Linked DNA regions of Homo sapiens: all the other regions are reported to be linked to region 6. The links are microRNA targets in miRTarBase. Many come from high-throughput screens and were not tested one by one. Region 6 holds a microRNA gene; each other region holds the end of a gene's coding sequence.

Region 1 (4,074 bases), not on the chromosome of region 6:
ATTGGTTGAGCCCAGGAGTTTGAGACTGCAGTGAGCCATAATTGTACTACTACACTCCAGCCTGGGGCACAGAGCCAGACCCTGTCTCCCCCAAGAAAAAAAAAAGAGCTAAAAACCAGAATAGGCAAATATATAGAGACAGATATTAGACAAGTAATTGCCTGGGGCCAGGAGGTATATGGTGGGGGAGAGCAGAATAAGGGAGAAGAGAAAAATGAAAAATGATTACTTATGGTTAAGAAGTTTCTTTACTGGGTGATGAAAATGTTCTAAAATTGATAGTGGTGATGGTTGTACAACTCTGAGAACATACTAAAAACCACTAGACAGTCTATTTTAAATGGTTGAATTGTGTGATATGTGAATTATATCTCAATACAGCTGTTTTAAAAAGTTCTGAATTGTTATTTCTTCAAAACGATGGATGCTTTGCTAAATTGGCAACATACACTAAGAACATGAATGTCATTAAATACCTTTGCCTAGTGGCTGAACCAGAATCCCAACCCCAGGACTACTGTTGAGGCCACATTCTAGGTCCCCAAGAGTGGGCTCCTTCACACCAGGCACAGTACCTCACTATAAACTCAGCCTACAGACCTGATGGCCAAGCAGTTCCCTGCTGGGCCAAGGAAGGGCTGGAGGAGGATGGCAGGGCCACTTGGATGCTAGCCAGGAGCAACTGGAATGGGAAATTCTTAAGTGTCTCTGATATGGCACAGAATGACCTCAAAACTCAGGTGATAAAATTCTTGGATAAAAAGAATTGCTGGGTGTGGTGGCTCACAGCTGTGATCCAAGCACTTTGGGAGGCTGAGGCGGGCAGACTGCTTAAGCCCAGGAGTCCTGGGCAACGTACAAAACCTCATATCTACAAAACAATATAAAAATTAGCTGGGCGCAGTGGCACACACCTGTAGTTCCAGCTACTTGGGAGGGTGAGGCAGGAGGACTGCTTAAGCCCAGGAGTTTGAGACTGCAGTGAGCCATGACTGTACCACTGCACTCCAGCATGGGGGACAAAGCCAGACCCTGTCTCCCTCAGGAAAAAAAAAAAAAAAGCTAAAAGCCAGAATAGGCAAATATATAGAGATAGATATTAGACAAGTAATTGCCTGGGGCTAGGAGGTATATGCTGCGGGAGAGCAGAACAAGGGAGAAGAGAAAAGATGTGCGTACCAAAAGGATGTGAGGCCCTGAGCCCAGGGCAGGTAAGGCATGGGACTGCCTTATTTTACCCTGGCATTTAGGACAGTACTCCACAAACCACAAATTCTTATAAATCACAGCCAGTGAAAGTATGCTCAAAATCCAGAAAGCTCTTTTAAAAAAGGTCTCAACACTTTGAGATGTTAGTCTTGAAATAAGTTAATGTTTCAAATTATATTCATTCCTTTAAATGGATTAAATTGCTATTTCTTGACCCGGCAAAATTTTACCTTGGTAGATCATTCAATAAAGCAGCACTGTGCCCTTCTCTAAGTCTGTGGTGTTGTACCGGCTCCTGCCATCATTTTTCACAGCTCTTTGAGGAGCAAAGAGGTGGAGGACTTGGTAGACACTAAGTAGCAAGTTGTGATAAGAATCAGAAACAGACACCAACTTCTTGAATCTCAACTAAGGTTTCTTTAGCCACATTCTACACAAAGATAAAATCTTAAGCCATTCATTAAAATCTTCAAAATTATATGTATTTGATAATAAACATCACATAGAGCAAATGGTTAAGTCACTAACACATTCTCTTTAACAGCAATTTCAGTTTTATAAAACTACTTTCAGATATTGTTTCATTTTGTATCATGATTTTTAAGTTTTCTCACTGCAGCTGGAATTAATTTCGTTACAATGAGAGGAGGAAGGGTTTAAAAATTAAAACGGTGTCTTCTAATTTTAAAATGTTAATTTAACAAAATATTCCATCCTATTTCAACATTATTAAACATAGGCCAGGCGTGGTGGCTCACGCCTGTAATCCCAGCACTTTGAGAGGCCAAGGTGGGTGATCACGAGGTCGAGATCGAGACCATCCTGGCCAACACAGTGAAACTCCGTCTCTACTAAAAATACAAAAATTAGCCGGGCGTGGTGGCATGCGCCTGTAGTCCCAGCTACTCGGGAGGCTGAGGCAGGAGAATCGCTTGAACTTGGGAAGTGGAGGCTGCAGTAAGCCAAGATCGCGCCACTAGCACTCCAGACTGGCGACAGAGTGAGACTCCGTCTCAAAAAAAAAAACCAAAAAACAAACAAAAAACCATTACTAAACATCAAAAGAATCATTCAAATACACTGGTTTTATCAAAAAACATGAAAAAGCCAAAATATAAATTTTCATGTTAGCTAGTCTTCCAATTTCATTTTATCCTAAGCAACTTAGGTCTCAGTTTTGTAATGTGACATTAATATAATGTTTATGGATGGGTGTGATGGCTGATGCCTGTAATCCCAGCACTTTGGGAGGCCCAGGTGGGCGGGTGGCTTGAGCCCAGGAGTTCAAGACCAGCCTGGACAACACAGTGAGACCCTGTCTCTATGAAAAATTGAAAATTAGCTGGGTGTGGTGGTGCACACCAGTAGTCCCAGCTAGTCAGGAAGCTGAGGTGGGAGGATGCCTTGAGCCAAGGAGGTCAATGCGGTGAGCCATGATTGTGGCACTGCACTCCAGTCTGGGTGACAGAATGAGACCGTCTCAAACAAAACAAAACAAGAAAACAAAAGATAATGTTTATCATGTCCACCTCCACAGGACAATGAGATGTAATTATAATAGGAAATATGATGGGTATGTTTCAGGGAGAATGAGCACATCTACCAGTACTGAATCAGCTTTGATGTTCAGAAACATCAAAGAAATATGGTCTCATCACTTAACACAGATGATACCTTAGAAGTTTCGTTTGTTTCTACTCTAAATAGAAGGGTCTTCTTTCCAGAACGACAGATCCGATACACTGTGGAAGAAAGAAATATAAGGAATTACAACCTAAACCCAAAACTGGCCCCAGGAAGAAACTAGTTGGAATGGCAGAAGGAGCTCCCAGCTAAGAGCTGTGTTGGCTGGGCCAGCTCTCTAGGCATCAAGAGGGGAGTGGACTCAGGTGGGCTTGAGTCCTCAGCAAGAGAGAGACTCCAAATGCTGCAGCTGTGACACCCCACAGTGCTCTGAGTAACCAAGGCAGTGGCGGCGGGGTGACAGAGGCTGTTCTTTCTGTCACTGGGCTCCAAGGGGCAGGAGCAGCGGGGTGAACACACTGAAATGCAAGACTGACTGTGCGCTACAGGCCGTGCTGAGCTAGAGCCTCTGCCTGGAGGGAAAGTACCAAGCTCCCAGGCAACAGCTTTACGAATTCTGGCTACTACACCAAGTCTAAATACATGACGATTTTCACAACATCAATGAGAAATTGTTCTTTAAAGTCTGAATAAATAAATTCTAGCTTTTCTTTTCAGTGTCTTAAAAACAAAGCAAAACAGACATGAGCAACATGAAGTGATATGTTTATCCAACTGTGTGTTGTTGAATCAACTTTTAGTTAAAATGTTAGAGAGGGACAAATAAGTACAGTGTGTCGATGTGCGGTGCTGTGAGGGCACAGACCAGTGATCAGAACACAACACCTGCGGCCTCTCCCATCCTGACAAAGTCTCTGCATGCCAACTCCAGCGACAGGGTGCTAGGACAGCGCAGGGATGAAATACTGAAGGGACACGTCTTCATGAAGCAGATCAAAATGCACCATCTTGTTATTCACAATATCTGGGAAGAGAAAAGCCATGATTTTAGAGACCTAGTGCAGCACACACATTTTGATCTCTACTTTTTCAGAACAGCCTTCCCAGCCTGCACCTCCTGTTTTAGGCATCTGTCTTCCCTGAGGCAGCTGCAGAGACCACAGTCTCTCACTCTCACTGCCACAGCTGAGGCTACATCACGGCCCCAGCACTGGCGGCTCCCTGTGCGAGGAGAGGAAAAGTGAAGCGGCCCAAGCCCTTGGCAAAACACCCAGCAGGCTGGCTTCCTGGCAAACCACATTCACCCACATGAGCATCCTTCTGCAGCGAAGAGCAGCTCCT
Region 2 (4,079 bases), not on the chromosome of region 6:
CTCACTAAAATTATGTTTTTAATAATGAATCACTGTATATATATATATGGATATTTCAAAATTCACTTGCTAAAAATTACTTGCTTGAAATCACGCCAGGGAGGCAGTTTTAGAGTAGACTGTCAGGTTGTATAACAGCCTGTTATATAGAACTAAACATAATACTTTAAAAAGAGAAGAATCCTATATATGATGTTACAAGGTAAATAGCTATTTCCATATTTTAAAAAAAAGGAAAAGATCACGAGATGACATTTTATTCAAATATATACATGCATTTCTACCTTAATATTTGTGACCAACATTGTGTGAGACCAACATTTGTGACCTAACTTCTCTACTAGGATCTACACACAACAGAAATTGTTTATAAAACTTTGCTTTTTAGATTAATTCTAAAATAATTTATAGTCACCTGGAATATTTATGCACAATATAAAGAGGCTCTAGATGATTTCATTATATTCCATATTTCTGTAATTTTATATTACAAAATAGTAAGTGGGCTCATTATTTAATTTTTCCAAAACATAGCTTTATTACAGCTTACTGTAAATCAGATACACCTTTCTCTGTAAACATTTTGTATGCTCATTAAAAGTTTGCTTCCCTAAATGGGCATGATGAACAAATATTAGCAAAATTGCTCAAGAATATTTTCCTTTGAAAAACGTATTAGTCTTTGAAAAATTACAGGTCTGTTCTAAAAAATGCTGCAATATGGCAATTTTAAAGTCATTCATTCCATCAAAAATATTCCTATTTTAAGTAAAAAACCTGATTTTAATTTGTCCCTACGAAAAGCCTAAGCACTGTCATACTTAGAAAAACTAAAAGATGGTAGAAACAATTAAGATCTAATGATCCTAATGTTCAGATAAAACTGGAGTGTTTATGTCCTCAATAATGAAGTATTTCCTTACTTTAGAGAAAGTAATCTAGCATCTGACTTAAGTGAATAAAGCTGAAATATTCTTTTGCCAGTGTTCAGGTAAATCATACAGATCAAGGAACTGACAAGCTAACTGTATGTACTTCTGGTAACAGGTGAGTGAACAGTTAAAATTATTAAAAATATGTAATTCCAAGGCTGAATATGCCATTCCCTCAAAGTAAAACCAGTCATTTTAAAAGCAAAAAAATTAAAAAACAAACAAACCCTCTAATGGTCAATTCAAACTGGCTGCATAAATTGAGTTTTAATGGCTACAAAATCTTTCAAATTGCTAAGAGCACATTTGATTTAACTGAAGGACTGTATTTAGGATGCAAAAAACCCCCCAAAACCCAGATTAGTGGCAATGTCCCATGTGACAAAAAGCTTTTAGACAAAATGACAGCTGTCTTTAAAAAAGTGCAAAGACCAAGGAGGGCAGATCATGAGGTCAGGAGATCAAGACCATCCTGGCTAATATGGTGAAACCCCGTCTCTACTAAAAATACAAAAAAATAAGCTGGGCGTGGTGGCACGCGCCTGCAGTCCCCGCTACTCAGGAGGCTGAAGCAGGAGAATCACTTGAACCCAGGAGATGGAGATTGCAGCGAGCCGAGATTGAGCCACTGCACTCTAGCCTGGGCAACAGAGTAAGACTGTCTCAAAAAAAAATAAAATAAAAGCAAAGAGACGATACCATTCCCCCATCCTCCAAATAGCATCCAAGCAAATTCCAACATCAAGATGCAATCAATTTCCAAAAAATTTATTTATACTCTGTATTAACCAGTGTTTCTCTTTTCCATCCTCACTCCCTAAGGAGTCTTTTTACAATCCTAATCAACCACCCCCAAAATTTTAATACCACAGATATGGTATCTGTTTAAGTACTGTGTGTATATTCATGCTTTATACATCAAGTTTTTGTCCCCCAGAACAATCTTGACAAGGACTGCGTGGCGCTAACAATGAAAAGTTTATAGTATTAAAACTTTTTTATTTGAATAAGTGGGGAGAAGAGAAATATATTTCAGCACTTAGATATATAAATTATTTCCAAAACAGTTTAATACTCAACTAGTCGGTTCTATCAAAATCAGTTTTCCCTGAAGTAAGCACTGTTCCCAGCTACAAGCGATCCTCATTTCACATGGTACTGTGGGACCATAAAAATGGTCCTGCAATCTTAATAATCAATAGGGAAAATGATGATTGTTCCATGACCTTTAAGGTTCTGCTCAAATATTAAAAACTCTTAAGACCAGTTATAAATGTAGAAAAAAATGCAAAAATGTTTAAAAATATTTAGTACACTGTAATTTAAAACATTAGAAATAGAATTAAAGTGTTTTATTTCATTGTAAAAACAAAGTAGTTTGAATAGGGCTTGCCTTTTTTTCTGGCAAGTAACTTACCATACTGAGTAAGCATCTTTTATGTTCACGGCAAACTGCCATACTCCTTCTAAGTTTGGGTCAGCTTCCACCCTTTTATTGCTTGTGCTTTCAATGTTGTGAAATATTTCTATATTCACATTAAATATCTTTTAATGTAAAGTTTTTTTTTTTTAACCATCACTTCCTCTGGGACGTATCTGTCTTTATTGCAACCACTTTGCTTATTTGTGTTGGTAAGTTTGCCTTCACTAAGCTCCTATGAATACACAGCAGCAAGAACAACATTCCCATGGTCAGTGACTTCTTCTACAAATTCATTTATGTTTGATTAAAATTTCACTTCCAGTGTTATCATTTTTCATTGCTTTGCTGCACTTTCATCTTTGTTGACCAGTTCTTTCGAGTGTTCACTTCTATAGAATGTCAAGTAGATGACAGAGAGACAGCATAACTACATGCTCTGCTGTACGTGAACTGAATTAACAGATGCACAGGGACAAACCACTGGAAGAATTTGAAAGAAATAACATGACTGGTCACAATCATGAAGCATATCTGTTATTTACATAGCGATTTGTAGACTGAAGAGCTAGCAGAGAGGTTTGTACTTCATGTAATTACTCAGTTACAATGTGCTAACTAAAATTTTAACCTAGATTTTAACAACAACAGTTTCCTTACCAGTTTTCTTTCCTTCCTGGTAAGGAAACTGGTATTTAAACTAAATCTAGGTCACTGAAATTTGTGCCCATGGGAAACATGCAAATAGAGGACTGCCTACACCCTACTTGTTTATATTGATCCAGACAGGCTTAACGCTGACTACTGAAAAATAGCCTATCTGAATTTATATCAAATAGTGAATCTTAAAGCACCCAAGATGAAAAATTAGGGCACACTGAGATGGTTTTAAAATCTTTGTCATATGATAATCAAGCTTAAAATGTATCTTAGAGTAACAGATTTTTAGAAATAAAGACCTTTAAAGGCTCCATAGTTTGGTACCGCAGATTATCCAGCATGTTTATTATGAATTATTTCTCCTCCTTCAATTTCAATTTGCTCATACAGCCACTTGCGGTCACAGCGGCATTCAGCTCCACACTTGGTAGAACCACAGGCAGGACAAGCATAGAAACATCCTAAGCAGTCTTCATCCAGGCAGTCACAGAGGTCCATCCCACTAAAAATCAGGAGACCCTGGCTATCATAGACCTTACTCTTTGCTGGTATCACTTGTCTGTAAAATAAAACACAATGAATTATACCTCATAAATATGTTATTTTTGATTTAATTGAAAATACAGTAAAAAAAAAAAAGGAGATAAAATATTTTTAGATGAGGTCATGCCAAAATCATCTATAATTTATCAGGCTCAAGGCTTATTCTATCGTCAGCAGTAAATGAACTCCATGTGAGAAGAGGAGACCTAACTCTATAGAGTGTTGAGACAAATCTAAAAATTCTGAATACGCTTCTTGAAGTGCATAATTTTCCCTTTACTTTAAACAAACAAAAAAGAATGACAGGTTAATAGTGGTTCACTTTATTAGCTACCAACCTCTTCACTGTTTTATCAACACAGTTTTATTTTTATTATAGTATACCACCTCTATAGATTTTTATACTACAATTAATGTTTCTTGTTCTTTAATGGACTCTAGTAAATTTGGCCTAAAAATATTTAAATGACTCAATGGTAAATTTTAACAGATGGAATACATGGCATATATAGAAATGTTGACTG
Region 3 (4,000 bases), not on the chromosome of region 6:
GGCGCAGGGCCCCGCACCGGTGAGGAAGGTGCTTTTGGCCCCATTGCGAGGGGCCTTGGCCAGGACTGGCCCTGTGGCCAGGAGGCGAGAAGGTGGCTGTTCCCGGATTGACGGCTTTTTCCCGGGGGCCTTTGGAAGATTTGGTGGAAGGACAAGAGGGCCTGTCCCTGTCCCCGTCCCCAGGAGGTACCGACAGTCCCTGTGCTGGTTAGACACGGAGCGCTGCACACCGAAAGCCCAAATTGGGAGCTCTGCCTGCCGGCAACTTTGCTGATGGGGTGATTGCTGCTTCTGGGGGGTAAGGAAACAAGTTACAGAAATTACCGCGTTCTGTGTGAAGGGACTGAGGGTGTGGTGTCATTGGCAGAGGGTCATTTTAGGAGAGCTGCCCCAGCCCCTCGAACGCCTGGCTTGGGGTGTCATTCTGCCTGGCGGCCAGGCCTCCAGCTTCCCCTGCCCCGGGCCTGGGGCTGTCACTGGCCCTGATCCGAACACCTCCAGATTCCGGCTTCTACATGGGACAGACGGGGACGCACAGGCCACCTTCCTTCTGGCAGGGACTCTTATTTATTCCCATTGCTCTAGGGCTTTCGGTTTCCCCTTCTTCCGGTAGGCCGCGTAGAGGCATGCACCGGGTAGGTTTCCGCGGTGACCCCGCGGCGGCCTGAGGGACGCTCCCTGCCCCATCCCGGCTGTTGGGCTGGGCCGCTTTGCCTCTGCTTCGCCCTGTGCTGTGTTCTCCAGCTTTGTAGCAGCAGCCTTGACAAACCCAGGCGCACTGTACCAAGGCAATGTAACTTTTGATTTTCGGTCAATTTAAGTTCTTTTGTCACCAAATATTAATAAACAGTTTTGACTTCACACCAAGGTTGGATAAACTGCAGGGGGTGGAGGGTGCTGGGGTTTTGCCTTGGCTGAGTGACGGGTTGGGGTGTGAAGGAGGCCAGAGGGAGACAGGCAAAGCCCAGAAGGGACAGGTCTGCCTTGCAGGACTGAAGGGCGACCCCTGCCCCTGGGCCCTTCCCGTAGGCAGCACCTGGGCCTGTCCGGGCGGCTCCCCGGAGTGGCGCGTTAGGCCTCTGGCAGGTGGCCTGGAGGTGGAAAGGCCTATCCGATCACCAAGACTGAGGGGCGCCCTCCCCACCACCCAGGCAAGGAGTCCAAGGAGACCAGCGGAGCAGACCACGCGGCATTTATTGTTGGGCCCGCGTCCCTGCCCGCCCCGGGTTAGCGGCAGCCGCACTCGTCCACCACCATGTCCTCATACTGCCGCAGCACCACGTTGTCGCTGTTGTCAAAGAAGAGCACGGAGATGGGCGACAGGCGCGCGGGCACGCAGCAGGGCAGGTCGGCGGCTCCCGGGGCGGCCGCGTGCATGAGCGCGCGCAGCACAGCGTGGTTGAGCGCCGGCGGCCCCCCGGACCCCGACAGCGCGACGGGCAGCGCGCACTGACCCTGGCAGTAGTTGGCCAGGAAGCCGCGCGGCGCGATGACCCAGCGGTGCCAGCCCACCTCGCGGAAGCTCACGTACAGCCGCCGCGCGCGACAAGCGCCCCCGGGGCCGCCGCCCAACACGGGTTCGGCGTCGCGCCGCGGCCGGGCCAGGGGGTGGCACAGGCGCGGGTCGAGGGTCACCAGCAGCAGCGAGGCCTCGGCCAGGCGCGCGCAGGCGGCAGGGGCCCGGGGGCGTAGCGCCAGCGCCAGGCGGAGGCTGCGCGGCCATGAGGCGTTGCGAGCCCAAGCGGCGCCCAGCAGCTCCGCGCGCACTGGCGGCCCCAGGGCGGGCACCAACTGGCGGAGCAGCACCGGCCCGGGGTCCGCGCCCGCGCCCTGGCCCGCTTGCGCCACGCTCAGCTCCCAGCCGCCCTCCGGGGCTGCCGCCGCCGCCGCCGCGAAACGCAGCTCCAGGCGGGCCCGGCTCGGGCGCTCAGCGGGTTCCACAGCCGACAGGTCGAAGACGACTGTCCACTCAGGGCAATGCCCCGCGGCCGAGGCAGGCTCCGAGGCCCGGGTGGGCGCACCTGGGGAGGTAGGAACAGGAACTCGGCTCGCGCTGCGTCCCCGGCCTGCCCATGGGGTCTCGGTTAGGGACAGGGAGGAAGGTGAACGCTGGGGCTCGGGGCGCACCGTCTGTGGGAAGGGTGTGAAGCGGCGGGGTGGGCTGATGGAGTGGGGGCAGGGCATGAGTTCCAAGGAAGGCGCCCTGCGGGGTGCGGCGGGGGGGGTGGGCTGCCCTCGGCGGGGGGCATAGGAGGAGGGGTGGCCGAAGTGGGAGACATGAGCCAGAACCTGGGCCCCTGGGGAAGCCATGCTAGGGTGTGGGGATGGCATCTGCAGGAAGGCATTAGTGTCAAGAGGTGGGGGTGGGCATGGGGTGGGGACAGGGCTTCAGCATCAAGCAGAAGGACTGGTCTTGGGAACCCCCTGACATGTGTCCCCGGCGTGCAGCAGATGACGAGGAAAGGGTGAGGTGCGGTGGCCGAAGTTGCTAGTAGCCTGGACAGGGCGGGTGGGGACCCTCGGAGCTGCTCGGGCATCCCCGGGCCACTCTCGAGGCTCGCCCTGCGAGGTCTGGCCTCCAGGACCAGTGTCCCCAGCGAAAGCCCCACTCACCGCGGTCCGGGATGTGGCGCACGATGTTTCCGGCGACCCCCAGCTCCTCCACGTGGCACGGTTGCAGGGTGACCCCTGGGGACGTCCGCCGCGAGCCAGACCTGGTCTCCTGGGGGTCCCGGCGTCGAAACAGGCGCCACATGACCGGGGGAACCGGCCGGAGCCTGGGGGCACCCTGGGGCTCATCGCGCAGTCCTAGAGCCTGGAGCAGGGCGGCGGCTGGGCCTGGGGGCACGGGGGCGCGGGTCAGGGGCAGCGAGGGCAGCAGCAGGGCCAGGAGGAGGAGGAGGTGGTGGCCGCAGGGACCTTGCTGCGGCGGTGGCATCTTCCTCCCAGGCGATGACCAGAGAGTGCGCAGGGTCCGCGGCGGCCCGGGACCAGTGGGCTGAGGGCGGGGCCGGTGTCCCCGGAGGGGCAGGGGTCCTGGGGGGCGTGGCCGGGAACTGGAGGCAGGATGAGGGGGCGGGGTCCCAGGGGAGGTGGCGGCGGCCCTAGAGGAGCAGAGTTGGAGGGGGTGGAGGGGCGGCCAAGGACGGGGAGCGTGGCCGGGGTATTCGGGGTGGGGCCGGGTCCACGGGGGCGGGGCCGAGGGGTTCAGAAGCGCTTGTCCTTCACCAGGCCGTTCCTCAGTGGCTTCCTGGGGGTCAGAACCGGCGCAGGTTAGCCTGGGAGCCCCACGCGGCCGCCTGGCCCTCTTTCCCGCTTCTTCTCTGGCCGTTTCACACCCCCTGGCTCCTTTTACCCGGCCAGGCCCGGGCCTCGCCTTGTGGCTTCCTCCTCGCCTTCACCCTGCCCCTCCTTGCCTTCACCCTGCCCCTCCTTCAACCTGCCCCGTAGGCACGTATGTCCCCCCTGGCACCCTGGCACTTCCTCCTTGCTTCCCCCTCTCCAATTAAACCTTCCTCTTCCCCTCCTCCCTGCCTCTCCAGGCCGCTGGAGGGCAAAACCCACGTACCGGCCTGGGCCTGACAACTCCACCGCCTCCACAGTGGGACCCTGCACATCCTCCTCTCCTCTGCCACCCACCCCACGAAGGCTAGTCCTTGACTCCAGTGGCCCTGGCTGGCATCTGCTGTCTCCACCTACTTCCCTTCCATGTTCTTTTATTTTCCTTTTTTTTTTTTGGTCTTACTCTGTGGTCCAGGCTAGAGCTGTGGCACAACCTCCAAGGCTCAATGGATCCTCCCACCTCAGCCTCCAGAGTAGCTGGGATTACAGGGGCACGCCACCACTCCCAGCAATTTTTTTTTTTTTTTTTTTTTGAGACAGAATCTTGCTCTGTTGCCTAGTCTGGAGTGTGGTGGCACAATCTCAGCTCACTGGAACCTCTGCCTCCTGAGTTCAAGCGATTCTCCTGCCTCAGCCTCCTGAGTAGTGTGGTGGCACC
Region 4 (4,079 bases), not on the chromosome of region 6:
TGCACAGAACTTCAAAGCATGCACATCATATTCATATCCTGTAAGATGGGCTGGGGAAAACATTAGTAGCAAATGATGTTGGATAGAAGCCAACTTTCCTGCCTCCTCTAAGGCAGGTGTTTACTTCCCCATGTAGTCCCAGGGATTGTCCAGGTGTGGCTTTAAGGTTCTAAGGTTCAGTATAGTGTGGTGGCAGGAGTCCAAGGCTTTTCAACCTACTTCAACTTTTCTACTGGCTTTCTATGTGGCATTGGGCAACTCATTTCCCTCTAAATACGCCTCAATGCCTACAATTTGTAAAACAAGAAGGTTCTGTGTGCTAATACTCCTGCCACCTGTGGTACTCTGGGGTTATATAACCCAGATCCATTAATTCTGTAGGAGCAGACAGGAATCCTATCAGATGGTACAAGTCAGAGATGGTAAGACTTTTCTTGATGCTCCTCAAGTTATTAGTCGTAGAAAGTTGATACTCTGCCTCCTCCAGTCTATTGTTACTGTAGGGGGAAAGGTAAGAAGCTTAATCAGAATAAAACCTTGTTTGAGATTCCCAAGATTCCTCAAATTTGTCTCAAATTATGACCAAGTATTTCAAGGTCAAGTGTTTTCTTTTACCCCATAAAGTCAAAAAAGGTTTCTGCCCACGCAAGCCCTTGCTATGTACCAAGATTGATAAACCCAAGTGCCTGCAGGATGAGGAGTGCCCATTGGTGGAAAAGTGCTGCTCACATTGTGGACTGAAATGTATGGACCCCAGACGTTGAATAGTAAGTAGAAAATATTATCATCAAAATCATTAATTATGAGTAGCATGATAAAGAGCTGTCAGTTTTGTCTTGTATCCAACTTGCCAAATTATCTTAAGTATCACAATATTGAATGATGTTACTTTGATTTTATATATAATCCCATCATCTGAAAGTGATGATATATTTGGCTTTTTTTCAACTTCATGACTTTATTTTCTTGTCTTCTTGTATTGTGTAGAACCTCCAAAATAATAATGAAAATAAAGGCAATGGCATCCATCCTTGTCTAGTTCCTTATTTTAAAGTCAATGGCTCCTGCACTATAAAAAGATATTTGTTGTTGAATTTGGAATACATAAGTTTTATTGCACTTAAATTATTTTCTTTTTCCTTTTCTTTCTTTCTTTCTTTTTTTTTTTTTTTGTGAGACGGAGTTTTGCTCTTATTGCCCAGGCGCAATCTCGGCTCACTGCAACCTCTGCTTCCCGGGTTCAAGTGATTCTCCTGCCTCAGCCTCCCAAGTAGCTGGGATTACAGGTGCCCACCATCATGCCCAGCTAATTTTTTGTATTTTTAGTAGAGATGGGGTTTTACCATGTTGGCCAAGCTGGTCACAAACTCCTGACCTCAGGTGATCCACCCACCTCAGCCTCCGAAAGTGCTGGGATCACAGGTGGGAGCCACTGTGCCTGGCCAGTTATTTCCTTTTTAAGCCTATTTCCTATCCATTTATAGCTACTACTGAAAATGACTACTGAATTTTATCAAATACCTTTTAAGCATACAGTCACATAATGATTTTTCTCTTCTAATTTGTTGGCATAATAAATTACTAAATTTTCTTGAGCCATCCTTGCATTCTTAATAAACTTAATTGCAGACTGCTGTATCAATATATTATTGGTTCTTTTTAGCTAATAGTATAGTTTGAATTTTCACATCTATAGTCAAAAGAAAAATAGGTCTTTTTAAATTTGTTTTTTCTATTTGGGTCATATTACTTTCAAAAAATGAGTATGGGAACTAATTGGGAAACCTAGCTACTTTTTCTATGCTCTGAAATATTTTACATAATATAGCAATTCAGCATTTTTTGAAGGCTACCAAAATTCAGCTCCAAAAGCATCTAGATCAGGTTCTTTCTAGTGGTATATTTTAGTAATTTTTAAATATTTCATCTTATAGTCTGCAGGTTTTCTACCTCCTCTTCTGCAAATTTTGGTCTTTTGTATTTTGGTAAAATTGATCCATTTTTCCTATATTTTCACATGTATTACTTTAGAGTAGCATAAATTGTTCTCTATATAATTCTTTTATATCTTTAACTTTGGTTAATGCTTTCATTTGTACATTCATGTTTCCACCCACCTATTTACTAACTATTCAATCCCTTTACTCACCTATCCATTCACTCAACACATATGCAAATACCCAATCCCCACTCACCTATCCCTCCTTTCCTTCCACTGACACACTTTTCAACTTAGCTATTTGCCTACTCCATATGTCTATCCACTTACTTTTCTTACTCATCTTTCTTCTACAGACCCACTTGCCCATCTAGCCTTTAATTCATCTTCCTATTATTGACCTCTCTCTTCCCCCTTTCTCTGCACACACACACATGCACACACTCTTTCATACCCATCAAAATACATATTCATCATTTCTATACCTAACTCCCTCCATCCCCCTACCAATGCACTCTTCCACCTTTCATTCAAACAGCCTCCATCAATAGGCCCACATATCCCATCACTACCCTATCCATCTTTATATTCAATCCAATCCACTTATTCACCCAATCATCCACCCATCCATAATCCATGCATTCATGTACCCAAACATCCATGCTTTCCTCACTAATCCCTCTCCCTGCTCAACCATCTTCCCACTTATCACACTCTACCAGCCACCCATCCATCCACATAGCTACCTACCTATTCACACACCTACCAATCCCCCCCACCTACCTTGCTCTTCCAGCAAGATGTACTGAGTGTTTATTTGGGGCCTATTCATGTTTTAAGCACTGCGTTCTAGACACAGACCTGTTTAATGGAGTTCAGAGCTTACTTGGGGGAGCAAACATGTAACTTAGTAATAGAGTTAGAGGCAGAGGGAACAACATAGGAAGCCAGTGACAGAGAATCAGTCCATGTGACAGATCTTGGGCTAATGAAAAAGCAGGAGGTGCCAGGTAGAGGCTGATCTTGTTGGTTCTCGTTGGAGTCCCCTGTTCTAAGCACAGGATTGTTCCTGGGAGAGAATTGGCCTGGAGGCAGAGGTAGGGCACCATGCCCTCAATGAGAAAGGATGAAGAAAGGAGAGGCAAAACCCCAGGTGGGTCCTTACCCAGCCTTCTCCAAGAAATTATTGGAGAGAAGGGGCCAAAACCATGATTTATCCCAAGTCCCAAAGACATAAATTTTATTTCACCTGCTTGGAAAGTGAGATGCTTGGATGGGCCTGAAAATTAGGCAAGACAGAATGGAATGAAGCAACCAGAAAGATAGTTAATTTATTTTCAATAAAATTTACGAAAAAATGCAGCCTTAATTGGGGACCCTGGGTACCATTTAGAAATTTACTGACTTTGGTGAGCCAAGTTTGCGCCACTGCACTCCAGCCTGGGTGACAGAGTGAGACTCCGTTTCAAAAAAAAAAAAAGAAATTTACTGACTTTCACTTTGTGGGTGTTCAGCCTCTGTCTCCACTAAAGACATTACTTCATTCCTTTAGACTCACCCTTCCTCTCTACCTTCAACTCTACAAGAAAATATTATATCCACACCAACATCAAAACATGCCCTGGTGTCCTCTGGCAAGAACTTGTGTGCTCAGCTCCCTCTTAATCTTATTTCTGACACTCACTTGCTGGGTGACATTTAGTCAGCATCCTCACTTCTCTGGGCCTTATGATTCCCATCTATAAATTGAGAAATAGGGCTTGATGGTCCCTCAGAGCCCTTCCACTTAGATATTCCAGTTTTCACTCTCTCCTGGGCTGAGTTTGTGAGAATATGGGAAATGAAATGAGTGAAACAGCACTGCTTACGACGTCTTACTCATTCATTAGAAATTCTAGCCAGGCACGGTGGCTCATGCCTGTAATCCCAACACTTTGGGAGGCTTAGGTGGGCAAATTGCTTGAGGCCAGGAGGTGGAGACCAGCCTGGCCAAGGGCGATACGTCATCTCTACTAAATATACAAAAATTAGCTGTGCATGGTGGTGCATGCCTGTAATCCCAGCTACTTGGGAGGTCGAGGCACGAATTGCTTGAACCGGGAAGGTGGAGATTGCAGTGAGCCGAGATTGTGCCACTGCA
Region 5 (4,069 bases), not on the chromosome of region 6:
AACAGTACATCATGATTTTGTGAATGTGTATCTTCATAGTGAAAACCGTATTTGAATACTTGCCACCATGATTTGCTTAAGGAAGAAATCCACTGGAAAAGTTTACACAGCAAAGGTGTGTGTCTGCGTGTGTGTGTGTGTGTGTGTGCATGCCTGTGCATGTGCTCATTTTAAAAATCAGATATGACTTGTCCTTTAACTTTAGTTGGCAGAGACAGAAAAGTGCAAATTCAGTAAATAATTGACTTACACAATATGTGACAATAAATACTCTAATTTTCTGTGACATCTAAAAGTTATAATTCTTTACTCAGTAGAAGACAGCTATCAGGTGCTAAAATAAAAAAAAGATACCTAACCCAATAAAGGCAAAATCTTAGTTATATTAACCAGCAAGGTACATATTACATTATTATTACTAGACCATGCCTCCAAGTGTGTCAAATTATAAAAATGTGTTCAGCATACATAAAATATACATTAAAGATTTCTCTCATCATAGGCACAATCTAATACAAAAATATATTTGACATTTATAAGTTAGAAGATCCATTGAGAGCCTCCAAAATAGGACAGGGGAAGGAATGAGTGATGACAACATAAAAAAAGAAGCACACATAGATGCAAATAGTTCCACTTATATGATTATTTTCTTCATCAGCAAAGGGTTAAGAGCAGTTTACACCAAACCAAGTTACCAAGCAGATCACAATCAGTTCACAGGTTGGATAAGTCACGGCACGCAGGCCAGAAAATGTACTCAGACTTCAGTCAACCTAATGGGACAGTGTACTCACACTGTGGTTTTGTTGTTTTGGAGTCTAGAAGCTCCATCTACCCATTCTCCATGGTCTACCACCATGTTAACACAGATTTACCACAGGCGCCATCTGTACCAAGCCTAGGATAGACTCTTTAAAAAAAAAAAGACCTGGCCGGTCACAGTGGTTCATGCCTGTAAGCATTTTGAGAGGACAAGGTGGGTGGATCATGAGGTCAGGAGTTCAAGACCAGCCTGGCCAAGGTGGTGGAACCCTGCCTCTACTAAAACTGCAAAAATTAGCCAGGCACGGTGGCAGGAACTTGTAATCCCAGCTACTTGGGAGGCTCAGGCAGAAGAATCGCTTAAACCCGGGTGACAGAGGTTGCAGTGAGCACAGATCACACCACTGCACTCCAGCCTGGGCAACAGAGTGAGACTCTGTTTCAAAATAAAAATAAAAATAAAGATTAAAAATTTTAAAAAGACCTACACTTTGACTAGTAAAGAAAACCTACAGGATGGTGTTGCAAAACGCAAAATTGTCTATCCAGTTAAGTGAGCTGAACACAAACTAATCTGAAGTCCTGAACTCTCTGTGGGGAAATAAAAGTATTTTTTTTAAGCAGGCAGAAATAAATGTTTTGAAAAAGATTCAAAAGCACAGGACCTTATATAATCTTTGAATGTGGAATAATAGTTCAAACAATATTTTGAACTGAAAATTCAAGAATGAACTCTCAAACAAAAATGTCATGATTCAGAATGCTCCATGATGATGACAGAAAAGCTTGTCACCTATGCTGCATGTTAAGAAGAGAGAAAAATGGCAACAGCCGTATTTTAAAGATTCATAATGTTCTTCCCTTCCATCTAGTTAAAACCAGATGTCCAGGCCGGGCACGGTGGCTCACACCAGTAATCCCAGCTCTTTGGGAGGCCAAGGCGGGTGGATCACGAGGTCAGGAGATGGAGACAATCCTGGCTAACATGGTGAAACCCCATCTCTACTAAAAATACAAAAAAAATTAGCCGGGTGTGGTTGCGGGTGCCTGTAGTCCCAGCTACTTGGGAGGCTGAGGCAGGAGAATGGTGTGAACCCAGGAGGCAGAGGTTGCAGTGAGCCAAGATCACGCCACTGCACTCCAGCCTGGGTGACAGAGCGAGACTCCGTCTCAAAAAAAAAAAAAAAAAAAAAAAAAAACAAAAAACAGATGTCCAATATTTTTGGGCACCAATTTTGCTCTTCAGAAAAAAGTTCCCTTCTCATTCACTGAATATAGGAGAGCAATCTCTTCTCTCTTACTATTATCTAAAACCCACACGGAATTCACATCAGGGAGAAAGTCAATGTGAATACACATTTTGGAAACAGTCTACTGAAAAGTGGTCAGTAACAGAGATGAAGAAATATGAATACTGTTTAGCCAAAATCAGTGAGAAATAACTTCTTTCAAAGAAATTATGACTATTCCCTCAAAACAAGGTCAAATCAGATAAAATTTGCCAACATTCTACTTGCTTTTCTGTTTTATTTTGAAAAGAAATATTAAAATATTAATATGAGATCATGTTTCAGCCAAAAGAATTTGTAAATAAACGATACCCTAAAATGATATCCTTTAGCTCAATAAAAATTTCTTTAAAAATCTAACCTTAAACATTGAGCCAAATTATGGCAGAGATTCTTAAAAGTGACTGAGGTATTTAGATTCTTCAAAACCACAGGTTTGCAGTACCGGGCATGGAGGTAAATTAAATGACAAAAATTAGCAATGAAGAATAAAAAAATAACTTTGAATTCCTTGTATAATATCTAAATAACCTGAGCTAAGGGGAAAATGATTAAATCCTGGCACTGTGTAGCCCAGCAAATGTTCCACCAGCAAATATTTTGAGGCCAAAATCTATGTTCATTCACGAATAACCTTTTCAAGTAATGTGTCAAAAGATTTCCAAAAGTTGGTAATTTGACAATTTTCACAAAGAAAGGTAAACTCCTAAAATGTAGATACTGTTTGTCTAATCTATAGACTAGGCTAATAGATTAGCAAAAGAGTCACACTTTTAGTTGTAAAATTATCTTCTATTAATATTTGCTCTTACTTGGTTGGCTTTCAAAGGAAAAAGAGTGTCCATCGCTTTGAAACATTCTGTAGACAATCTGGAGATGACTATTTCTGGTGACATAACTTCAGCTGAAGATTTTGTTCTTTTAATAAGTAAAACATGGAATTCTGGCCTATTAACATGAATTATTTTTACAATAAAAGTCAGTTGGTGGTCAGGAGATCTGCTTTCTATTCATTGCTCTGCTGATAACAGGAATAATTAATTGGGATAAGTCAATTTGCCTTTTTGTGCCTGAGTTTCACTGTCTGCAAAGTGGGGTTAAGAATATCTGTGCTATGTTATTCACTGGAGTATTTTGAGGATAAAGTAAAACACTAGAAAGCACTTTTATTTTTTCAAAACACAAATATAAATGCTATGTCATGATATTGTTAATAATTTTACAGGTACCTCATCATGTTACCCATTCAGATATGTGCTTAAGGTAGGTGTTCCTACAGGATCTTGGGTTGGATGTTCCGTTTGATTTTATTTTAAAAATAATAAATCACAAAACTAAAACGTTTGAGCAAGGTCACTTAACCCTCTCCCCAGGTGGTTAGTTATTATTACCATCATCATCCTCCTCAACATCATTATTACTTTTCAGCTACATGTTTAAAAGAGGAGATCTTTAATATGTCAGCTTAACTGGGAAAATGTGTCCCTGGCACAGGTGGTTTTCAGAAGAAAAGCCCATCTTCACAAGAGCTTTGTCCTCTGCTTTTATTTTAAAGTGCGGACCCTGGGTGGGGAGGGACGGAGCGGGTGTTCCGGGTCTGTCACTGAGGAACCAATTCCCTCAGAGAGGCCAGAGCAGCATGGATGCGGACATGCAATCTGTTTTCAAAGTCGTAGCCAGAGAAATCCTCCTGTAAGATCAAAGAAAGATATTTATGCACTCTGTTAGCTAAGCTTGCACAGGGTACTGTGGTATAAAGCACACTCAATTTTGCATTTCCCAAAGTAAAATCTCTACACTCCCAGTAAAGGTTTCCCATCCACTTGATTTTCATATTACTCAAACCTCAAACTTTGTATTCATTTTTAAAAACGTCAACTGAATGTCAATAAGGTTCTCTTTGGACAATTTTCCTCGAGTTATTCTTGAAAAAGTAGTCTTATGTTGTGCTCAATATAAGTTGCTATTAGAAATTCTTAATTCAGGGACATAGTTATAAAATCAAAAGTTATCTT
Region 6 (4,079 bases):
CAGCCCCCAGGCCCAGAGGAGAACTACTGATAAAGTGATACAACGGACTCTGGGGACTCCAGGAAAAGGGTGGGAGGGGGTGAGGGATAAAAGTACAAACTGGGTTCAGTGTGTACTGCTCAGGTGATGGGTGCACGAGAATCTCACAAATCACCACCAAGGAACTTACTCATGTAACCAAACACCACCTGTTCCCCAAAACCTATGGAAATAAAAAATTCAAAAGAAAAATAATACAAACCTTTTTTTCTCCTGGGGAAAGAAAAAGGAAGGTTAATGTTAAATGTCATGCTGGGTTATGACATCATGGCCACCACAAAAAAAGGTGAAAACTCCTCTGAACAGCAGACAGCACAGCCTGGCGCGGACACTGGCACACAGGCCCACGGGACCTGGCGGGCCACAACTAAATGCACCCATCTTCCACCTTCTCTGTCCACCCCCAGGTCACTGATGTCAGGGGATGGAGGGAGCCCTGAGCTCCACTCCTGCTGAGTCTTGTCCATCAACCTCCCTTCCCGACCCAGCCCACCCCCATGAGATGCCCAACGTGCCAGCCTCCAGCCCTGGTGCACACAGGGCCAGTTTCTGGAACACTCAACAGCACACCACCCAGGCAGCTGAGGGCTACTCACCGCTCGGGTCCGGACTCGCTCATCCCTCCTGCAGGCGGCCCCAGGTCCAGTTAGGGCCTTGGACTCAGGCCCCCGTGCCAGGAGCTTGACCAGCTCTTAACAATCTGCCCAGGGCAGAGACGTGAGGTCCCCTCCTGCCCACCTGGTGACCCCGGTTGCTCCCAAAGTGAAAAAGAGAAAGACAACAAATAGAAGCCATCACCCCCACTCCCAAGCTCCACCCACCCGCTCAGAGCCCTGCTGCGGGGACGACAAGACCCTTGTCATGCCCCAAGCCCATGAGCACTGACCTCAGACCCAAACAGTAAGCCTCGTCCAGACCCCTGTCCACCTGTCTGAGATCAACAAAGACAAGCATACCCATCCTGACACCACAGAAGCTGAGGGGTAGACCAGGAAGGGAGCGGGTGCATGGGGGAAGCGGGGGTGAGGAAGGGGAGACGGGAGGTGGGAAGGAAGGGCAGGGGAGAGGGTGCTCCCTCCTGCAGGAAGGGAGGGGGTGCATTGGGGAGGAGGGGTGAGAAAGGGAAGATGGGAGGTGAGTGGGAAGGGCAGAGGTGAGGGTGCTCCCTCCTACAGGAAGAAGGGGTGCATGGGGAAGGAGGGGTGAGGAAGGGGAGATGGGATGTAAGTGGGAAGGGCAGAGGTGAGGATGCTCCCTCCTGCACCCTCTTGTCCTCTCTAATGGCCTCAGCTACTGCAAGGCCTCTCTCCCCACACTGGCTGCCCTGCTGCCCCGATGCTCATGCCTGGGCTGGCTGTCGTGGCTTGTTAATGGGGTTAATGATGCCAATATCACAGGGCTTGGTGCGGGTCACCTCTGCCATGCACAGGACCTGAGTTAGTCAGAGAGGCAGAAGACAGAGGTCCAAGAACCAGGGGCCACGGCCGTGCCCCCTGCTCATGTTGCCATTGGGCACCCTCAGGTACCCAGCCTGAGCAGGGTACGCACAGGGGAAGAAGGGAGCCCAGCTGACAGCTTCTGGGGACCCAGAGTTGGGAATCCTTGGGGAGAGGGGAAATGTCTCCAGAACAGGTTTAAGGAGAGAGTAAGAAGCCGCCTGTGAGGGGCCTCAGCCTCCTGGTCATGAAAGAGTCCTGGGTAGAGGCAGAGACCCCTCGAGGAGACCCTCCTCTTGGGGCACAGAAAGGGCCAGCCCTGGTCCGCCAAAGCCCCACCCCCTCCACCCTGGGCACAAAGGGGCACCATCTCTCCAACGTCTGTCCATCCATCCTGTGGGCCGGGTCCCTTTGGAGGGCTCTGTGTGGGAGCACAGCCCCAGCCCCTCAGTGGGAGAAGCCCCAGGGCTACCCAACTCCCCCTCCGGCCTATCTGCCCTTGGCTGTGGAGTCAGCCCAGGGGGTGTCCCACCAGGGGCATAGTTCCCTGCCAAGGAGGGGCCTCAGAGATGGCCCAGCCCCAGGCCCTCCCCTCCAGGAAGTCAGAGAGCTGCAGAAGAGAGAGAGAAGAGCCCAAGGAGCATGCCGGGAAGAGGCTGGCAGGACAGCAGCGGACTTGAGGACGCGTCCCCGTGCAGCCAAGGGTGCAGAGGAGGGTCCGGGGGCTGCGCGTGGTTGAAGGGGATGAAGAAAGGCATCATATAGGAGCTGGATAACTGTGCATCAACTCCTGTATGAAGCCGTTCCCACCCCCCAACTACTGACTACGGGCCGCAACCCTCCTCCCGGAAGCGCAGTGCAAGCGCTCGGATGGCAGAGGGGACGCCTGCTGCTAGTGGTTAGAGCAGTGACAGCAAGGGACAGCCAGCCTAGGCAGTGCCACCCACTGCTGGGCACCTGCAGCGCTGGGGTACCTGTCCACCCTGCCCAGCCTTGCCCTACCTGCCTCCTATGGCCAGGGCCTGGGCCTCCCTTAGCCCCACAGAGCCCCCAGGTGACTGTGCAGCCAGGCCAAGGGACGGAGGATGGGGAGGTGAAGGGGGAGACAGGCCTGATTCTGGCCCAGGTCTGTGAGTGGACATCGGGGACTCGACCCCACCCACCCACTGCTTTGACTCCCTGGTACTTCTCCAGCCTTGCCTTCTACATCTGTGAAATGGGTTGCAACAGGCACCTCTGGGGACCCAGTGAGGACTCATGAAGTCCAGGGGCACTTCAAGAATTTCCCAGAGACAGAAAGTAGATTTTTGGTTGCTGAGGGCTGGGGGGTGTGCATGGAGGGTGAAGGTGACAGCTGAAGGCTCTGGAGTTCTTTTGGGGGTGATGAAAATGATCTTAAATTGATTATGGTGATAGTTGCAGATATCTGTGAATAACTAAAACACACTTCGCTGTGAGCTTTAATGGGCGGATTGTGTGTATGTGGATTACATCTCAATAAAGTTGTACCCCAAAACACCTTCCTTTGTTCTTTGACATCTTTCTCAACCACCATACTGCCTGCCTCGTCCTACACTCTCCAGCCATCCACACCACCAACACACATGCACAGGGACACGCAGCCAGGCACGTGGTAGGTGGTGCAAAAATATCTGTGAGTAAATGACCTGATAATATAACATTCTCTGAAAGAGCCCATGGAGGGAAACCTTTAGGGAAAGGGGTTAAAGATTAAGAAGTAGGGGTGGCAGGAGGGTATGGAGGTGGGAAAGAGGCTCAGAGTGACACATGAATGGAAAAGGGGCTCAGATTGACAGACACATGGAGGGAGGAGGGGCTCCCTGTAACACATGGGTGGAGGAGGGGGCTGGTGTGACACACGGGTGGGGGAAGAGCTCCATGGGACACATGGGTGGAGGAGGGGGTTGGTGTGACCCATGGGTGGAGGAGGGGGCTGGTGTGACACATGGGTGGGGGGGGTTAGTGTGACACATGGGTGGAGGAGGGGGCTGGTGTGACACACGGGTGGGGGAAGAGCTCCATGTGACGCATGGGTGGAGAGGGGGTTGGTGTGACACATCAGTGGAGAGAGGGTTGGTGTGACACATGGGTGTGGAGAGGGGCTCCATGTCACATAAGTAAGGGAGGGGCTCAGGGCAATGCATGAGTGGGGGGAAGGTCTCTGGGTGATGCATGGGAAGGGGAGGACTTCAAGTGACATGTGAGAGAAGCTCAGGTGACACATTAGTAGGGAAAAGGCTCCTCATGACACATGAGTGAAGGAGAGGTGGAATGTGAGACAGAAAAGGGGCTCAGTGTGACGTGTGTGGGAAGAGAGTCTCTGTGTGACATATGGGGGGAAGGGACTTGGAGTAACACAAGAAAGGCGACTTGGTGTGACACGTGGGTGGGAAGAGTCTCTCTGTGACATATGGGGGCAGGGACTTGGAGTAACACAAGAAAGAGGACTTGATGTGACACGTGGGTGGGGGAAGATCTCACGGGACACAAGGTTGGGAAGAGATGCCCAGTGAGACACAAGGGTGCAGGGAGGGCTCCGCGTGTCAGAAGGAGTCCATGCAATACATCAGTGGAGGAGGAGCT
Region 7 (4,069 bases), not on the chromosome of region 6:
AACAACAAAATGAAATGTTCTAACTAAAATAACTTAATACATATATTATGAAATTACATCTAAAAATTTTACATTCACTACATTTTATAAAAATCATTCTTATAATTTCTGACCAGCTCACATAATAAACACTTCATGAAGTGAAAACAAAAAAGAGAATCAAAGAAATTATAGCTCTAGCATGAGCACCAGACAAATAAAAACAAGGAGTTTGTATGGGGAGATTCTCAACGACAATCCATTAGATTCTAGAGTCATTAAATAAAAAGAAGAAAATATAGAATGTTTCAGGCTTCTAGATTTCCAGTAAATTATCCATGGTATTAACATAATCTTCTTTGTTCTAATATTGCTATTTTCTTTGGAAAATAGGTACAAACTCACATAAACACAATTGCTTGCTCTATAATTTTCTTACACCTAAGGTTTATCTTTACAGCAACACATTTACATACTTAACTTCATGTAAATGGAACTAAAGTTTGTATAAGTTTGCAGGAAAAGATGCCACATGTTCAAAGAGAAATGTAAAACATTTTTTAGAAGTATTCAGGATGCATAAATGTATGAATTATAATTATACTGATATAATACTACAATCATAATTGTACATTTAGAAATAATTAAAGTGTATAATTGGATTGTGTGTAATACAAAGGATGAATGCTTGAGGTGATGAATAACTCATTTACTCTGGTATATTACATGTTGTATGCCTGTATAAGAAAATAACCCATATATGCCATAGATAAATATGCATACTATGTACCCACAAAAATTTCGGAAAATAACAAGAGTGAAAATACAACATATGGGAATGATATTCTTCAATGTATTTGCTATTTAAAGCCACTGGAAAAAGAGAATACTAAAAATGTCATTCAACTATGTTACCATTGTTACCATCTTTTACCTACACCATTGAGTAAGGTGGGATAGGTTTAAGTTGGTGGCATAATGACACTTCATTCAAGCAACAATTATTTCAACACGTTAAAAATTTTGTTTAGTTAAAAAATTATGTTCCCACATAATCTTAAAATAATTTTAAAATTTACTGTATCTTATTACATAAATGTATAATTGGTAAAACAATTTACTACTAAAACAGATTTTCTCTCACTATAATGCAGAAGAATATTACTCTGAACACCTACCTCATGCATCACTCAATATTGTCAACTACAAAAAAGCCTCTCTGCTAGATTTTCATCATGGATCTTTCATTTCTGTCCTCACTCTTTCTTGTAAAAATTCACAAATAATGCCCACCTAATGAAAAAGAATCTCTCTTATCTCTGATGCAGCAACAATTCATCACATGCTTTCACATAAACAGGAATGTTGAAACAGTATGAAATAATTTGAGTTGAATTAACTATTATATGCTTTTCAAAAAATCTATACTTTTTTCAAGTGAAAAAATATACTTTAAATGTAGTATCTCTTCAAAAATCTTCTTTTCAACTTATATACAAAGAAATTCTCTAATAGGTTCAACTTTGGATTTTTTTAATACTTAATACTCTGATTTACTGCAGTGTCTAAAGTGTTAGTTCCTTAGTTCTTTCTACTGTAAATCCTCTGATGTTTACATACTCTTCTTTTTAGACTAAATATTTCTTCACATTTACTGCATCTACAAAATATTTTCTAGTGTAAACTGTTTAAGCTGCAGTTTTTGAACAAATGTTTTTCCACATTTATTACATTTGTAGGATTTCTCTCCAATATAAATTTTCTGATGTTGAAGAAAGTCTCCTTCAGTGTTTTCCCCTATTATAAAATGTGTACAACAAAATCCATGAGAGAAGTACAGGTACTACAACCCTCTTTATATTTGTATTGTTTGTCTTAAGAATACTCTTCTTCACTTTAAAGGCCTATATTTTCTGAAGTCTTTCAACAGAAATTACATTTATAATGTTTTTATTAAGTATGAACATTGCTAGTTAGTAAAATGTGAGGAGATATGACTTTTCTATATTTTTTATATTTCTATAACTTTTCTCGAATATAAAGGATATCATGTGCAAAAAGATGAGCATTGGTAAAAATCCTGCCACATTTTTTGCATTTCCAGGGGATTTCTTCAGTAGGAATTATATATATACAGTAAGATGTGACAAGCATTTGAAGGCTTTGCCACATTTTTCATATTTTTGTGGCTTCTCACCAATATCATTTCTCTTATATTTAGAATAGATTGAGTGTGGTTGCAAGCTTTGTCACACTTTCCACGTTTGCAGTTTCTCTTCAGTGTGAATTATCTTATGATTAGAAAAGACTGAGGAAGATTTAAAGACTGCCACATTCTTCACATTTGTAAGACTTTCCTCCAGTATGAGTTCTCATTATGTTTAAGAAGCCTGGAGTATGGCTTAAAGGTTTTGTCACATCTTTTACATTTCTATGGTTTTATATCTAGGATGAATTCTTATATTCATCTTTCATATCTTCTCAATGTAAGTTTGTGGAATGAATCTTCTACTCTCAAATATGAATTTTCATAAAGGTTTGTGGATGGTCTGAAGGCTCTGCCACGTTTTTCACATTTGTAGCATTTTTTTCCCCAGAATGAATTATCTTGTGCACAGTAAGGGTTGAGAACCTATTGAAGGCTTTGCCACATTCTTTACATGTGTAGGGTTTCTCTCTGGTATAAATTCTCTTATGTTTAACAAAGTTTGAGGATGTGGTAAAGACTGTGCCACATTCTTCGCATGTGAAGCATTTTGCTCCAGCATGAATTCACTTACGTTCATTAAGGGTTGAGGACCATTTAAAGGCTTTGCCACACGGTTCACATGTGAAGTTTCTCTCCAGCATGAATTATATTTATTAAGCATTGAGGACCAATTAAATGCTTTGCCACATTCTGCCACATGTGTAGGGCTTCCCTCCAGCATGATTTTTCTTATGTTTATTCACCGGTGAGGGCTGTTTAAAGGTTTTGTTACACTCTTTACATTTGCAGGGTTTATCTCCAGTAATAATTTTCTTCTGCTCATTCAGGTTTGTGGACCATTCACAGGCTTTGCCATATTCTTCACATTTGTACAGTTTCTCTCCGGTATGAATTCTCTTATGTTTATCAAGGTTTGAGAATGAGGTAAAGAACTTTGCCACGTTCTTCACATTTCCAGGGTTTCTCTACAGTATAAATTTTCTCATGTTCATTAAGGTTTGTGGATCATCCAAAGGTTTGCCACATTCTTTACATTTGTAGGATTTCTCTCAAGTATGAATTTTCTTATGTTTATTCAGGTGTGAGAACCGTTTAAAGGCTTTGTCACAATCTTTACATTTGTAGGGTTTATCTACAGTATGAATTTTCTTATGTTGACTCAGGAGCGAAAATTGTTTAAAGGCTTTGTCACATTCTTTACATTTGTAGGGTTTATCTGCACTATGAATTTTCTTATGTTGACTCCGATCTGTGGACCGTCTAAAGGCTTTGCCACATTCTTCACATTTGTAGGGTTTCTCTCCAGTATGAATTTTTTTATGTTCATTCAGGACCCTGGACCGTCCAAAGGCTTTGCCACATTCATCACATTTGTAGGGCCGCTCTCCAGTATGAACTTTCTTATGTTCATTCAGTTTTGAGGACTGTCTAAAAGCTTTGCCACATTCTTCACATGTGTAGGGTTTCTCTCCAGTATGAATTCTCTTATGTTTAGTAAGGGTTGTGGACCTATTAAAGGCTTTGCCACATTCTTCACATTTGTAGGGTTTCTCTCCAGTATGAATTCGCTTATGTTTGGCAAAGTTTGAGGATGAGGTAAAGATTTTCCTACATTCTTCACATGTGATGGGTTTCTCTCCAGCATGAATTCTCTTATGTTTAGTAAGGGTTGTGAACCTATTAAAGGCTTTGCCACATTCTTCACATTTATAGGGTTTTTCTCCAGTATGAATTATTTTATGCTTAGCAAAGTGTGAGGATGTGGTAAAGATGCTGCCACATTCTTCACAAGTAAAAGGTTTCTCTCCAGTATGAATTCTCTTATGTTCATTAAATATTAAAGACCATTTAAAGGCTTTGCCACATTCTTCACAAGTGTAG

What was found. The annotated mature microRNA hsa-miR-665 reads ACCAGGAGGCUGAGGCCCCU and lies in region 6 at 1,702-1,721, opposite strand. An mRNA with a match to its seed (bases 2 to 7 or 8) in the 3' UTR can be bound and repressed. Matches are read on the target gene's strand: a 7mer-m8 pairs with bases 2 to 8, a 7mer-A1 pairs with bases 2 to 7 and ends in A, and an 8mer does both.
Region 1: the mRNA of HUS1 is a reported target of hsa-miR-665. Seed matches in the 3' UTR shown: 7mer-m8 at 2,486-2,492.
Region 2: miRTarBase lists ARL14EP as a target of hsa-miR-665. The part of its 3' UTR that is shown has no 7-base or 8-base seed match.
Region 3: miRTarBase lists CERS1 as a target of hsa-miR-665. Seed matches in the 3' UTR shown: 7mer-m8 at 2,887-2,893.
Region 4: miRTarBase lists WFDC8 as a target of hsa-miR-665. The part of its 3' UTR that is shown has no 7-base or 8-base seed match.
Region 5: the mRNA of TTC39C is a reported target of hsa-miR-665. Seed matches in the 3' UTR shown: 7mer-m8 at 1,861-1,867.
Region 7: the mRNA of ZNF141 is a reported target of hsa-miR-665. The part of its 3' UTR that is shown has no 7-base or 8-base seed match.

The regions. Positions count from the first base shown.
Region 1 is chr7:47,961,682-47,965,755 of GRCh38, forward strand. HUS1 (HUS1 checkpoint clamp component) reads right to left here. Exons shown (of 8, transcript NM_004507.4): 8 at 1,607-3,757. The coding sequence ends at 3,675. Among named protein-coding and RNA genes, the nearest start is that of PKD1L1, 15 kb to the left of the region's middle.
Region 2 is chr11:30,336,059-30,340,137 of GRCh38, reverse strand. ARL14EP (ARF like GTPase 14 effector protein) reads right to left here. Exons shown (of 4, transcript NM_152316.3): 4 at 1,915-3,571. The coding sequence ends at 3,343. Among named protein-coding and RNA genes, the nearest start is that of ARL14EP, 15 kb to the right of the region's middle.
Region 3 is chr19:18,867,370-18,871,369 of GRCh38, forward strand. It overlaps CERS1 (ceramide synthase 1), which reads right to left. Exons shown (of 8, transcript NM_021267.5): 7 at 2,614-3,250; 8 at 1,176-2,021. The coding sequence ends at 3,208. It overlaps UPF1 (UPF1 RNA helicase and ATPase), which reads left to right. Exons shown (of 24, transcript NM_002911.4): 24 at 1-861. It overlaps GDF1 (growth differentiation factor 1), which reads right to left. Exons shown (of 8, transcript NM_001492.6): 7 at 2,614-3,250; 8 at 1,176-2,021. The coding sequence starts at 2,938. The coding sequence ends at 1,228. Among named protein-coding and RNA genes, the nearest start is that of CERS1, 27 kb to the right of the region's middle.
Region 4 is chr20:45,548,711-45,552,789 of GRCh38, reverse strand. It overlaps WFDC8 (WAP four-disulfide core domain 8), which reads left to right. Exons shown (of 6, transcript NM_130896.3): 6 at 625-1,028. The coding sequence ends at 764. Among named protein-coding and RNA genes, the nearest start is that of EPPIN-WFDC6, 3.3 kb to the right of the region's middle.
Region 5 is chr18:24,132,160-24,136,228 of GRCh38, reverse strand. TTC39C (tetratricopeptide repeat domain 39C) reads right to left here. Exons shown (of 14, transcript NM_001135993.2): 14 at 629-3,744. The coding sequence ends at 3,655. Among named protein-coding and RNA genes, the nearest start is that of CABYR, 4.9 kb to the left of the region's middle.
Region 6 is chr14:100,872,717-100,876,795 of GRCh38, reverse strand. MIR665 (microRNA 665) reads right to left here and starts at 1,763; the gene lies at 1,692-1,763. MIR337 (microRNA 337) reads right to left here and starts at 2,303; the gene lies at 2,211-2,303. RefSeq lists an enhancer at 2,955-3,124.
Region 7 is chr4:373,031-377,099 of GRCh38, reverse strand. ZNF141 (zinc finger protein 141) reads right to left here. Exons shown (of 4, transcript NM_003441.4): 4 at 1-4,069. The coding sequence ends at 3,238. Among named protein-coding and RNA genes, the nearest start is that of MIR571, 25 kb to the right of the region's middle.